Linked DNA regions of Homo sapiens. The protein of the gene in region 1 interacts with the protein of each later gene in a pairwise test. Each region holds a gene or a part of one and is shown in the gene's direction. Other genes may lie near its edges.

Region 1 (3,647 bases):
TCATAGATGAGAGAATTCTGTATACGACTGCGGAACCTGGTACACAGTGGAGCAACCAAAGGAGAAATCTCGGCCACACAGGACGTCATGATGGAGGAGGTAATAACAAAATTTGGATTTTTTTGTGACCCCTCTAAGGAACTCTCAGAATATTCCCATCTGTTAAAGTAATGATTAGGAAGCTTTAGTCATGGCAACGAATGTTTAATTGAATTGAAAATTACTTATTTTACACTGAAAAAACTGAGCTTAAAACTTACTTTGCCTTTTAGTGTAGGACTTGGACTTGGATTTTCTAATTCGTAGTTTAGTGGTCTGTATAATCATTCTTTTATCATTTCATAAATATTAAATACCTTCTATGAGTTTGGCACTGAGGAAACAGATGAGAAAGACATAGTCACTGCTCTTAAAGAGCTCAGTCTCTTGGGAAAAAGAAAACACATCTATAATGATGATAAATCCTATGCTAGATGTGTAAAAACTGATTTGGTGGTCATAGAGGAGGGAGTGACTAGCTCAGTGAGCTGAAGCTTTCATAGGGAAGATAGCTCTTGAAAGAGTAGTCAGAATTTACCAGGTAGATAACAAGACCATTCTAGGCAAAAGGAATTGTATGAACAGTGCCATAAACAAAGATAGAACCTTCAGGGAATCATGTGGCTGAAACATAACTTTTTTCAGTATGATGGGTAGCAAATTAAGCTAGAAAGGCAGAGATGTAAGGGATGTTGGATCGATGCCAGAACATTTGGCTTCTTTCTGTAGAAATAAAGACGGAGCTATTGATGGTTATATTTGTTAATGTATGTAAAAACATTTTAGAAAATGTAAAAAGCACTAAAATATGAGGTGGTAATATTATTTATGATCAAGACAGTTAAGAAACTTTATTATTAATACTATCCATGTCCAGAATGAATATGCATAAAACTGCAATTGGTTTGAGGAAAGAATAAATGTTTCCGTTTGTCAGCCAGTAGGCCCTTTATTAGGCTTCCTTTCAAGACTGTATGGAGTTAAAATGGCCTACTTTTTTTCACTGCGATGGAAAACACTAATGCTTCACTTGTGTTTTCCTTTAAATCTTAGAGATGCAGCATAGTGGAGCAGTGGAGTGTGTAATCTCTGAAGTCAGGCTATCTGAGCTCTAGTCTTCTCATTACTTTATATCCTGGGACAAGTTCCTTAAGCTCTAAAGGCTCAGTTCATATTTAACATGTCTAGCCTAGTGCTTGGCACAATAGCTGTTTCTTAAGTATTTGTTGAGTGGACGAATGCAGAAATTTCATTTACCAAATGCATTTAAATAATCTCATTTTTATCTCTTAAATTCTTACAGAAGAGAGGCATCTTAGTATAGTAGGAAAAAATAGGCTTTGGAGTCAGACATACATGGGTTTAAATTCTGACTCTTTTACTTAACAGTCTGTGATCCTAGGTAAGTTACTTAACCTGTCTGAGATTCAGTCAGGATCTGAAATATTTTCCTTATTGGATTTTTGGGGAATCAAGGATTAAATGTAAGCATGCAAGGCATAGTGCCTGGCACGTAGCAGGAGTTCTGTAAATGTTACTTCTTCCCTTCTTGCTTGGAATGACTGTCTTGCAGAGGCTATATCTGCTACATAATTTGCCTTTATTTAGGGTTAGATTAAGATGGTGGGGGCCAGGCACGGTGGCTCATGCCTGCAGTCTCAGCACTTTGGGAGGCCAAGGTGGGCGGATCATAAGGTCAGGAGATCAAGACCATCCTGACCAACATGGTGAAACCCCGTCTCTACTAAAATACAAATAATTAGCTGGGCGTGGTGGTATGCGCCTGTAGTCCCAGCTACTCGGGAGGCTGAGGCAGGGGAATCACTTGAACCCAGGAGGCAGAGCTTGCAGTGAGCCGAGATTGTGCCACTGTACTCCAGCCTGGTGACAGAGTGAGACTCCGTCTCCAAAAAAAAAAAAAAAAAAAAAGATGGAGGTATAGTAGGAATGAAGGTTCTGCAAACAGTTGTGGAAAAGGGCCCAGATAATACTTGCTGTAGATAATAAGCATCCTTTTGGCTTTTGATGTTTGCTTTAATGATCTTTGAACTAATGATGTGTCTAAGATTGATGTCCTCATCATTGGTAGAGCGTGGTAATTGGCTGGTAAGAATTAGGGCAGATATGTTTCACATATTTTTTTCCTCCCCTACTCCTGCCTCAGAGAAATAGTAGATCCAACTTTACCAAATCCTGAGTATGAATGTTTTATAGGATTATTTACTTAATGATTCTACCTAAACTATTTACTACAGAATTCTGTGTGTAAGGGTTTTTTCCCCCTTAGAGACAGAGTCTTGCTTTGTTGCCCAAGCTGGAGTGCAGAGGCGCAGTCATAGCTTACTGTAACTTTCAACTCCTGGGCTCAAATGCTGCTTCAGCCACCCAAGTAGCTGGGACTACAGGTGCATGCCACCATGCCCAGCTCATTTATTAAAAAAATTGTGTAGAGATTCAGTCTCACTATATTTCCCAGGCCGATCTCCACCACCTGGGCTCAAGCAGTCCTCCCACCTTAGCCTCCCAAAGATTGTGCATATTATAAAGTGTGAGCCGCCATACCTGGCCCTGTGTATAAGGTTTTAAAATTTTTACAATCCCCCAAATGACTTCTTTTCATTGAACCTGACTCTTTGGTAATGAAGAGTCTAGCTGCAGTTTTAAAGCCCCAAATTAGTACCTATGATTTGTGTAACCTTGTAGGCAAGTCAAAATGATGGCTTAATCAACAGCCGTGAAGCTCAGATAGCTTTGAATAAAATGTGTTTATGCTAAAGGCATTCTTACTGAGAAGTGAGACGCAGGCTGCTTGTTGAGATGACAGGCAAGGCAGATCTGTTTTGGAGATGTGTAGTTACCTCTATTGCAATGTTATCTCAGTGTCCATTTTTTTAGCCTGCGGATCCCCTTAAGATTATTAATGTATTCTCAGTTGGGCGCAGTGGCTCATGCCTATAATCCCAGCACTTTGGGAGGTCAAGGCAGATGGATCACTTGAGGCCAGGAGTTCAAGACCAGCCTGGCCAACATGGCAAAACCCCGTCTCTACTAAAATACGAAAAAAACATCTGGGCATAGTGGTGCATGCCTATAATGCCAGCTGCTTGGGCAGCTGAGACACAAGAATCACCGGAACCCTGCAGGTGGTGGAGACCAAAATTGTGCCACTGCAGTCCAGCCTGGGTGACAGAGCAAGGCTCTGTCTCAAAAAAAAAAAAAAAAAAAAAACCTTGTCTGTTAAAAAGCAAAACATAGCCAGGCATGGTGGTAACACTTGTAGTGCCAGCTACTTGGGAGGCTAAGGCAGATCACTTGAGTCCAGAAACCCAGGAGTTCAAGTGCTACCTGGGCAACCTAGTGAGACCTCATTTCTAAAATCAATCGATCAGTCAATCAAAGACCAAAACCAATATTTGTCAGTGCCACAAAAAGGGAAAAGAAGCCTTTATGATTGACTTAGGAAATTCTATAGCAGTGGCTGTCAGCTATTGAAAACAATATATAGGATAGGCCTAACTTGTCCCAGACTCACAAAGTCAGTTTCCCTGGAATAGAACCTAGTTATCTGTATTTTTATTTTAAAGACATCTTCGATTAAAAAATATATT
Region 2 (3,647 bases), on another chromosome or scaffold:
CTCCACACACCCCCTTGAGCCGGCATATTACCAGTTACTAGAGTAGGTACAGTGGAAGTGAGTTATGAAGCTGGGGTGTTAGCTTCCTGGATCCCTGAGAGAAAGTTCTAAACTCCTTTCTCCCTGATCAGACTCACATCCTAAACGTCTCCCTTTGCCTCGTTGTCTTTTAAAGCAAGAATGTGTAAGAAATTCATTTTGGGGTTGGAGGGATATTTTGATGTTTAGGGCTGCTTCACTAGACATCTTTTTCTTCTGATCTTGTTCTCTCTCCTCTCTTCATTTTCTCAACCACCCTTCCACCACTGAGCCTCCCAAAGGATGACAGCCCAGGTCCTGGCCAGAGTCAGTTCCTGTCCAGATGCCCCCATTCTTCAAAACCCCTTCCTTACCTTTTGGGAAGCCCTTCCTTACTCAAGTCTATCTCTCTTTCCTCCTGCTGCAGTGTGAGCCCTTGCACATCAGAACCCCCAAGCCTAGGTTTATTCCCGCCCAGTACTCTCTTCTCAGGGTCCTCCTCACTCCTCAGACTCTTTACCTTTCAGGTCCTCCAGCTCTGCGTGTGGGCTCATTGCTCTTGGGGCATCTGGGTGCAGCTGAATGGTACTGCAGGAAGGCCCCTGACTTGGTAGTGCTGGGTATGAGCGATAGAGAACCTGCCTCCCTCTTCTGTCCCAGATTTCAGCCTGGTTAGCAGGATCCTGCATTGTTTGGAGAAGGAAGCAGTTGGCTTTGGAGTGTTTCCGGTGCAATGGCCTCAGGCACCAATATAAACCCTCCCTGGGAAAGAGGTGAGGGGTATATGTGGAGAGTTGTCCCTCTTGCTCCCCTAGGGGAGATGAAAGCCTCTCCCTCTCCCACCAGGCCTTAGCTTCCCTGGCTGAAGAGCTCCATTTTCCTCCCTCCTTTCTACCCTCCTGACTCCAGGGGTGGTAGTGGTCCCTATTCTGGGTCTCCCTTGAGTCAGGCACTGCCTAGGGCCGAGACTCTGTCTCTCCAAGATAGGACAGATCTTGCTCCCACCCTACTCTAGGCTCAGCGGGGTAGTCATTCTCTGGGTTCATCCCAGGACAACTGTGTCATCCCCTTGGCAATCTCTGGACTGAGCCCCCTTCCTGGCTTTTCTGGCTGTCTGTCTGTCTTTCTGTCTGTCTGTCATTAGTGTGCGCTGTCTTGGCTTTTTAGAACCTCTCTGTCTCTCACCCTCTCAGTTCATCTCTTACTGCCGAACCTTTGTGACATTCTCTGCCCTGCTTTCTGCGTCTCTGTCACTTGTCTTATTTTTCTCTGCCTGTCTCCATTTACCCCCATCCAGGCCTCTTGGTATCCCAAAAGCTTCTTGGGAGCAAGAGTCTCTCTGGGCTTTCCCACTCACCCCCTGGCTCCCTCCCCTCTGTTTTGGCTATTTTTCCCCCTTCCTGGCCAGACCCAGTGTCCAGTTCAGCACCAAAAGTTTCCTCTCCACTTTCCTCCGACTTCCTCTTTCTTCTTCCCCCTCCACTAATTTGGGGAATGGGTTTTGGAGAGAATGTTTCTGGAAGAAAGGAACTTGATACCCTTTGTGGGCTAAGAGGGAGAAAGGAGGTATTTCAGAAGGAAGGAGGGAGGTTAGACTTCTGGCAGAACTTCCTCCTGACCAGGAGCCTAAGAACTGGAGAAAGATGTAAGGAGTGAGTCAAGAACTTGGAGCTTTTACTCTGGTGAGCATAAGCTGTGTGTGTGGCTGGGGTGGGGGGAGAAGGAGAGGAGGCTTAGAAATGCCTGGTGAGTGATATGGTGACCTCTGGAGGCCTTCTGGGGGTCTGGCTTTTATTTGTGGGGAAAGGAAAAGCTGGTGGGGGAGGTCACGGGTCAGGCTAATGTCCTGCTGCATCAATATTGACTCAGAATGGAAGCGGAGACCCTTCCCCTCCCCTGGCTGTCCAAGCCACCCTGTCTGTCTGTCTGTCCAGGCCGCAAAGCAGAGGCCCAGACTCAGGAATGACAAAAATGTGTCTGAGCCTCAGGAAAGAGCCACTGGGCAACACCCAAAATACAAAAAATTCAGTGAAAACCTCTCGGTTTGGGTTTGGGAGGCCCTTGCTGCCCCACCCCCATAAGGTCGAAAATTCAGATTCCTGCAGGCTCTGTCCCCGCGCCGCCCCCCCACCCCACCCCCCGCACCTTGAGCATCCTCCTCCCACTCTGTTCCCTTAGCTATATCATGTGGTTCCCTTTAGAGAACCCCCCTCTCACCTAGCTCAGAGGGGAGCCTATCTCTCCTTCTGCTGTGTCCACTCTTAAAAAGGGCCCCAAGAGTCCCTGTCATGCTTTTGCAGTCCCTGAGTCTCCTTGTCCTTTAAGAAGCACCTCTAAGGTCTTAGCTCTCTTCCTTGCTCTCGCTCCCTCAAGGGGGTATCAAAGGATGGGTTCCCCTCCTCTGGAGAAGACTCCTTCAGGGTTGGACTTCGCTGTCACCCTCTCTGGCCAGGCATTCTCACCCCACTTCCCCACCCCCAAGGTCCCAGAATGGGACACAGAATGACAGCCAAGGGTCAAGCAGGGCAGTGGGGTCTGTGTTGTGTCTGGACGCACACCCAACTCTACACCTCCTGCCCTGGCTCCAGCTTGGTGGCCCTGGGGACCGTGGCTGGGCTGGGTGCCTGGGTTTGGGGGGGTGGGGCAGGGTGTTGGCCAAGTTAGCATGGCAGTCACATTCATCTTCAGGCAAAGCCGAGAACAGACGGCCCCTGTGTCCTGGTGTTCTTCCTCCAAACTCGCTCTCTCTCCTTCCTCTCTAGATCTCTCCTTCTTCTTCTCCTGCCTGTCTTCCCCTTCTTCTGTCCCATTCTTGCTCCTCTCTGTCTCCCCTATGCCCTTCCCTCCTCTCTGAGGAGCCCTGAAGGCCACCCCTTAAAATCCTCTCCCCACTGCCAGGGCCAGAGAACGACAGCGTTCTCCCTGCAATTTCCCTTCCTTGTTTTTTGTTTTTGTTTTGTTTTGTTTTTGAGACACAGTCTCACTCCATCACCCAGACTGAAATGCAATGGCGTGATCTCTGCTCACTGCGACCTCCGCCTCCTGCTAATTTTTGTATTTTTAGTAGAGACAGGGTTTCACCATGTTGCCCAGGCTGGTCTCAAACTCTTGACCTCAAGTGATCCGCCCATCTCCGCCTCCACCTCCCAAAGTGCTGGTACTACAGACGGGAGCCACTGCGCCCATCTGGTTTCCTTTCTTTCTTTCTTTTTTTTTTCTTTTGAGATGGAATCTCGCTCTGTTGCCCAGGCTGGAGTGCAGTGGCGCGATCTCAGTTCACTGCAAGCTCCGCCTCCCCTGGTTCACGCCATTCTCCTGCCTCAGCCTCCTGAGTAGCTGGGACTACAGGCGCCTGCCACCACGCCCAGCTAATTTTTCATATTTTTAGTAGAGACGGGGTTTCACCGCGTTAGCCAGGATGGTCTCGATCTCCTGACATCATGATCTGCCTGCTTCGGCCTCCCAAAGTACTGGGATTACAGGCATGAGCCACCATGCCCGGCCTGGTTTCCTTTCTTAACCCGGCTGCATCCCATGACCTATGAGGAAACCACCTGCTCAGTTACCAGTCACCCTGTGCCTCAGCTCCCCCATGTGTGAGAGGGGGGCCGCAAGGGCACCCACCTCAC

What was found.
Region 2: the proteins of BLMH (region 1) and LRP1 interact in binary tests that used the Homo sapiens proteins (3 or more experiments, as listed by UniProt).

The regions. Positions count from the first base shown.
Region 1 is NC_000017.11:30,281,840-30,285,486, reverse strand, and holds part of BLMH (bleomycin hydrolase), read left to right. Parts: intron 1-6; coding exon 7-99; intron 100-3,647. UniProt on the Homo sapiens protein: The normal physiological role of BLM hydrolase is unknown, but it catalyzes the inactivation of the antitumor drug BLM (a glycopeptide) by hydrolyzing the carboxamide bond of its B-aminoalaninamide moiety thus protecting normal and malignant cells from BLM toxicity.
Region 2 is NC_000012.12:57,131,483-57,135,129, forward strand, and holds part of LRP1 (prolow-density lipoprotein receptor-related protein 1 preproprotein), read left to right. Parts: intron 1-3,647. UniProt on the Homo sapiens protein: Endocytic receptor involved in endocytosis and in phagocytosis of apoptotic cells. Required for early embryonic development. Involved in cellular lipid homeostasis.